2 linked regions of the Homo sapiens genome follow. The protein of the gene in region 2 purifies or fractionates together with the protein of the main gene of each other region. This does not show direct contact. Each region holds a gene or a part of one and is shown on either strand. Other genes may lie near its edges.

Region 1 (3,500 bases), on a different chromosome or scaffold from region 2:
ACCCGCTGTGCAGCCCTTCCAGCAGGCAGATACTAAGCCCGGCACCCCTCCCAGGCTCCAGGCTCACTTGTGTGCTAACCTCTGTGCCCACCTGGCCACCTGCTCACCTGCCTGAAGCGTGTCCCACTGCCCCAAGCTGGGGCTGCTTCCTGGTTGTGAGGGAAGTGCCTGCTCTGCAGACCCCCACCTTCCAGCAGGCGGATACTAAGCCCAGCACCCCTCCCAGGCTCTGGCCCTCCCCACACACCTGTGGTTTCAAGCCCTGTTCTGCTGGAAGGGACACTCCTCCCACCTCCCCAGCCCTCTCTGCTGGAGCCGTGCCCCTCCCCCGACATTCCTCCAGGCTGGGCCACCCCCACATGCCTCCTTGCTCTCCACCGCCCAGACCTTCTCCTTATCTTGTTTTCCTTTTTATATTGTTGTTCTCCCTCCCTGGCCTTGCCTCTCCCTGCTGGGTTCCTTGCCCGAGTTTCTAATTCAGAGAAGACTGGGTAACTCCCCACAGTGTCTCTGCTAAAGCTTCCCAGGCCCAGTGACTTTTTACTAAATCCTCGAAGGCCATCAGGTTCCAGGGCCTGCTGAGGTCTCCATAATCACCCCTTGATTCCAGAAATGATCCGAGACTAGAGACTTATCCCAGCCCAGCCCTACTGCCCAGGTCCTCCGGTGCCTGCCTGGGAGCCTGTTTGTGCACTTTGATCCCCGGCCTGCCTGCCGGAAAATCATCCAGGCTGTGGTTCCTGATCCCATCACCTGGCTTTATCTGAGATACAAAGCACAATATTCACCGAGGGCTGGTGGCCTTCCCTGAGGGTTGGCCTGGATTAGCAACCTGCACCTGTACCCGCACCTGCACGACATGTGGCCAGGCCTGTGCTCCGAGGCCAGGTTTCCCTTCCCCCATCTCTTTCTTTGTCTCCCTCTGTGTTTCTCTCTCTGTCCCAGTCTCTCTCTTCTCCCCACTGCTGGTGGTGAGGAATTCTCCGCATGGGATGTTGGTGCATCCGTTTTCAAACTTGCTGGCTCATCCTGAACTGCATGTGCCCTCCAAGCACCTTTTCCCTGACCTTGTGGATTCTTTGGGAACAGCTGGGGAAGGGGTACCCTTTATGGAAATGAAAACCCCTCTGAGTCCCCACTTGGGAACAGCCACTTGGCTGGGACACAGGCCCAGATGTTGGGATGGCCTAAAGGGAGGTCCCTGTTGGAGGGGAGGGCTGTACAATGTGGGGGCGCCTGGTGGGGAAGGTGATGGCCAGGCTGAGACCTCCCCTGCCCTGCCTTGACAGAGGCTGCAGCACACTCCCACACACAGACACATGCACACACATTCACACATGGACACCAGCACAGATAGGTGCTGACTCATGGATACAGGTGTGCAGGGACACACACACCCCTACCTAGACACATGCACACATGTACATATGTTCCCATAGACACAGATATACATGCACACACACAGGCACACACATACTAACAGACATGTACATACGTATGCACACATTCACATAGATATACGTACACACACACACTGACAGACATGCACACACATAAACAGGCACACACACATACTAACAGACATGTACACATACATGCACACATTCACATAGACATACGTACACACAGTCACACACTGTCCAGACATGCACATACAAGGCACACACATACTAACAGACATGTATACATACATGCACACATTCACATAGACATACAGTCACACAGACATGTACACATGCATAATGACATGCACACACATACTAACAGACATGTACACATACATGCACACATTCACATAGATGTACCTACACAGTCACACAGACATGCATACATAGGCACACACAGACATGTACACATACGTACACAGTCACACACACAGACATGCACACACAAAGGCACATACTAGCAGACATGTACACATACATGCACACATTCACATAGACATATGTAAGCACACAGCCACACACTGACAGACATGCACACACATACATGCACACATTCACATAGACATACGTACACACAGTCACACACTGTCCAGACATGCACATACAAGGCACACATACTAACAGACATGTATACATACATGCACACATTCATATAGACATACAGTCACACAGACATGTACACACATGCATGACACGCACACACATACTAACAGACATGTACACATACATGCACACATTCACATAGACTTACATAGTCATGTACACACATGCATAATGACACACATACTAACAGACATGTACACATACATGCACACATTCACATAGACATACATACAGTCACAGACATGTACACACATGCATAATGACACGCACACACATACTAACAGACATGTACACATACATGCACACATTCACATAGATGTACATACACAGTCACACACACAGACATGCATACATAGGCACACACAGACATGTACACATACAGTCACAAACACACAGACATGCATACATAGGCACACACAGACATGTACACATACGTACACAGTCACACACAGACATGCACACACAAAGGCACATACTAGCAGACGTACACAGACATGCACACATTCACATAGATGTACATAGTCACACACAGACATGCATACATAGGCACACAGACATGCACACACAAAGGCACATACTAGCAGACATGTACACATGCACACATTCACATAGACATATGTAAACACACAGTCACACACACTGACAGACATGCACACACATGCACACATTCACATAGACATACGTACACAGTCATACACTGACAGACATGTACACACATGCATAATATGCACACATGTACACACAGTCACATAAATAGACACATATACACACACAGGCACACATGGATGCCCAGCCACATGCATGCAGACACACACAGACACATGTGCACCCTCTCACACACTTTTCTCTTTCTACAACTTTGGGGTCAGAAGACCACTGACAGCTGCAGCAGGATCACTAAAAAGTGACACAAGGTCACGGGGCTCTGTGGCCCCAGCTTCCTCAGACCCCCAGGGTCTCTCCACTCCCAGAGCCCCCTGCCTGAGGGGCCGGAGCCCTGTGGCCAAGGCCTTTCCTCCTGGGCCCATCCTGAGGCCTGCAGGTGGACCCCGGCCCGGCCTCCTCTGAGGGCCGTCTTCCGTGCTGGCTCCGCAGCCCTCTCCTGTGCCCGCACCTGTGCAGATGCTTGTTTTCACCCGGGCGTCTGCAGGCACTTGGTGCCAGGCTCCTCCGGGGCTTTCTCAGAGGCAGCCGAGTGCCAGGCCCTGCACACGACACCCTCACCCGAGCCGGAGAGCTTCACATCTGTGGAAAACTCTAATTAAAGACGTTTTGAGAAACGCTGAACGTCTCCCTTTGTTATTTAGGAACAAAACACTCTTTTAGGAAGCAAGTGCTTATGGCTTCTTTCTTGAGATTCTGAGTAAAGGGGCGTTAAGCTTGCTAGCTGGGGCATGCTGAGCACTTCCCAGGTTATGGCTTTACCCCAGAGCGATTGACAGGCATCCAGGT
Region 2 (4,184 bases):
GGATTTTGTAACCATTACATTTTGTATATTATATTTAGACCAAACTTTAAAAATAAATTTTTAATATGGATACATCAAATTGTGAATGTCAAACATTAATTCTCAATCACACACCTAGATTTCATGAAAGCAGTTTTAATTTTTAATAAAAGTAAGGATGAAATCATTTCCATAAAATGCAAATCTGACCTTAATTATAAACAATTGGAAGACTTAAAACAATTGAACCAAACATTGCAAAAAAGATGTACCACACTGACATGAGACGCCTAATTAATGAGTTATTTTAACACACTCTAATGCAAATCAGAAATAATAAAATGGCAATTGTGTTAAAAATAGTTGAAATATCTATTATGTATTCAGTGGTAACATGTGCCAGGTTGTGTGTTTAGTTTTTTACATACATTATACTTTATAAATTATTTTTCCCAATGTAGATTAGTAAACTAGGTTAGTAGACACTAAGTAATTTAGTACAGGTCACATATTACAACTTGCAAAGCTAGAATTAATTGTAGTCTCACTGACTACAGAGCTCATTGACTAGATTATTAAATTACATTATCTGAACTATTACAATTACTTATACAACCAAAGCAACCCTCACTGACTTATACAATCATAGGAGCTTTCTGAAAGTTTGATTGGACACTATTCTTCCATAGACGGCCCACACGTTTATTTATCATTTTAAGTTTTCCTATTTTAGTCATTAAATCAATTACCAATTTCTTGTGTAAAAGCAGCAATTTAAAAATACGTTTTCAATAATATTTATGCATACAGTAATGTAATGTTTTACAAGATATATTTTTAAAATTTTAATGATTTTTCTGATTTCCTAATTTAGAAAAAAAATCATTTGACAATACCTCAGGTCCTTTTAATAAATGAATGTAAGTCACTAACAATGTATTTTAGTATAAGAAGATACTCTATATGCTGACAGAACTATTTTATCTTATGGCACACAATCCTTAACCATCAATGACTCTTAAAACTATGATAAAATTTGTGTATTTCTAAATACAGTATTTTGATTGTTGACATATGCAGTCTATTGGTGTTAAACATTTTTGAAGAATCTAACCTTAATTTAATACCAATTTTTCATGAACTTCCTAGTTCTCATAAGTTTAATGTTTTTATTGTTCCCACTAGTAATATTATGTCAAATACAGAATACATCTAAAAAATTGCCAATTATATCGTGTGATTTTTGTTTAAAGCTTTAGGAAATTAGTAGCAGAATTTTACATTGGTTAACAGCAAAGTAAACATTATTACTCAGCCCCAACACATGCACATTGCCTATACCAGGGATCCTGTCAAAATATACACCATTTATAGCTTCTTAAGTGCAGTTATCATAGAGCACAGTCCCTCACATCACACAGCTGCAGAGATGAATAAACAAAGAGGAACCTTCTCAGAAGTGAGTCTGGCCCAGGACCCAAAGCGGCAGCAAAGGAAACCTAAAGGCAATAAAAGCTCCATTTCAGGAACCGAACAGGAAATATTCCAAGTAGAATTAAATCTTCAAAATCCTTCCCTGAATCATCAAGGGATTGATAAAATATATGACTGCCAAGGTAAAACATTAAATATATCTTCAATATTATTGTTCTAGGATGTGCAGTTGAATGCAGAAGGGTGAGGAAAGATTAGGGAATATTTTGCACTTGTGAGAATCGGAGTTCATAATTGGGATCTAAAATTCTAATATGAAATCAGAAGACTAATTTTATTCGGGCATTGTTCAACTGTAATCTGCGGTCCACTCATGGAACATTATATTTACTGAAAATGAAATGGTATATTCTGAGAGAAAGATTACTAGAGTAGATGTAGATTTAGAGGCCAGAGTTTATCATTATGTTTCCCTGTGCATGTGGGTTCTCTAGTATGTAATTCTCTAGTATGTAATCCTAATCAACTCTCTATCTCCCCTCTCTCAGTGCCTCTATTTCTCTCCCTGCAGGTTTACTGCCACCTCCAGAGAAGCTCACTGCCGAGGTCCTAGGAATCATTTGCATTGTCCTGATGGCCACTGTGTTAAAAACAATAGTTCTTATTCCTTGTAAGCATATTCTTGAAAGATTAGAAGGGAACGTTTTACTTTAATGCTTGGAAGTGCCTCAAAATATTTCATACTGTTGAAGAATAGAACTCTTATTTTACTGTTTCTTTCAAAGATCTATTACTTCATTTATTTTTATAGAAAAAGTTAATTTTATTAAAGATTGTCCCCATTTTAAATAACACACAAAGTTTCAAAGTAAGAAACTAAACTCATTATGGTTTATCTAAATATTACTTTTTATAAAAATCATTTTAATTTTTCTGTTACAGTCCTGGAGCAGAACAATTCTTCCCCAAATACAAGAACCCAGAAAAGTACATTTTTATTTTCAAAGTTCTGATATTAGTACAATTTGGAACCAAAAGTAATATGGTTATTCTGAATTTTTCACAACATAAATAACAAAATCATTGTAGAGAACATGTGTTTATTTTTTGTGTGTAATCTATATATATGTATATACATACACACACAAAGATATTTTCTGATTTCATAATTCAAAGGCATGCTATAGAAGAAAAGTATTTAGAAAAACAAATTAATTTTTGAAAGTGGTTACATCAAATACTACAAGAGATGGTGAAGTTTGTGCTAAAGTCTTTAAAAATGTTTATTTCAAAGGTCTATTACTTTATATATTTTTATAGAAAAAGTTAATTTTATTAAAGATTCTCCCCATTTTAAATAACACACAAAGTTTCAAAGTAAGAAACTAAACTCGTTATGGTTTATCTAGATATCAGTTTTTATAAAAATCATTTTAATTTTTCTATTACAGTCCTGGAGCAGAACAATTTTTCCCCGAATACAAGAACGCAGAAAGGTACATTTTTATTTTCAATGTTCTGATATTAGTACAATTTATATTTTGTGTCTGTTTTAAGGCATGTAAAAGAATAGTGGCATTTTTGCAGAAAATAAGCCATAAATTCAGCCATAAATATTTATAAAGAAAGATTATGAGGCAGCATTTCCTTTTCTCCAGTGAGTAGAAATACTCACTTAAAATCATTCTACCCTCTTTCTCCCAATTAACAGAGGTTTCCTACTGCTGTGAGATGATACCAAATAAATAATTTTACTATTCTAAAAAAGCAGTTGTGTATCAGCGATGTTCAACACATGTGTAGAGTGTATTTTTGTTTGTTCATTTGCTTTATATGGGAACACAATTAGGGAGGAGAGGCTAACCCTTGTCTGTGCATGTGTGTATGACTGACTCAGTTATTAAAAATATACATTTATAAGCCTGTAAGGATGCGTAAATATGTTAAGCACATATATGTTTATACTGTTGAAATATGTGAACTAATTTTCATTTTTAAAAATTCATATTGGTCTAGATAGTAATTCATATCTTTATTAGCACGTCATTGTGGCCATTGTCCTGAGGAGTGGATTACATATTCCAACAGTTGTTATTACATTGGTAAGGAAAGAAGAACTTGGGAAGAGAGTTTGCTGGCCTGTACTTCGAAGAACTCCAGTCTGCTTTCTATAGATAATGAAGAAGAAATGGTAAGATGTAAATGTTTCAAACATTTTATGAAAAGCTTCCTTCAGTGAATAATACATTTGTAGAAAACATCCATATGTGTGTACATATATTTATCTCATATATTTTCAAGTGTATGTAATATTCAATTGATTGACTTAATAATGTTTTTAAAGTTATATACTGCTAATGTACATTTATTTTCAGTTTTTGTTTTTCAAGGAAAACCATGCTTCTATAAGTGCTTTGAATCCACAATAAATTTTGCTATCTAATTTTATCGGGCATGATATCATCTGGTCATGCAGATTGATCACAAAGTGAATGAATGCATGTGATACAAGTCAGATCATGAAATAAAAGTTTCCAGCTCTAGCAGTTCCACCCCTGTGTATGCCCTCATCACTTATCCTGACTCCTCTCCAAAACGCAGTCTTGACTTTTAATATTATAAATAATGATTGCCTGTTCTTGAATTTATTTATATAAAGGGAATCAAGCAGTGTGAATTTCATGTCTTTTTCAATCCTATCTGATATTTGTGCAATTCCTCCATATTATTGCAGTTATCAGTAGTATGTTACTGTTCACTGCTGTACTATG

What was found. Proteins that work in one complex are often made in the same cells at the same time.
Region 1: the proteins of KLRC2 (region 2) and GAS6 purify together in Homo sapiens (affinity purification with mass spectrometry; one large-scale study listed by BioGRID and IntAct). This does not show direct contact.

The regions. Positions count from the first base shown.
Region 1 is NC_000013.11:113,857,577-113,861,076, reverse strand, and holds part of GAS6 (growth arrest-specific protein 6 precursor), read left to right. Parts: intron 1-3,500. UniProt on the Homo sapiens protein: Ligand for tyrosine-protein kinase receptors AXL, TYRO3 and MER whose signaling is implicated in cell growth and survival, cell adhesion and cell migration.
Region 2 is NC_000012.12:10,433,211-10,437,394, reverse strand, and holds the start of KLRC2 (NKG2-C type II integral membrane protein), read left to right. Parts: upstream 1-1,384; 5' UTR 1,385-1,408; coding exon 1,409-1,595; intron 1,596-1,984; coding exon 1,985-2,083; intron 2,084-2,864; coding exon 2,865-2,909; intron 2,910-3,452; coding exon 3,453-3,604; intron 3,605-4,184. UniProt on the Homo sapiens protein: Immune activating receptor involved in self-nonself discrimination.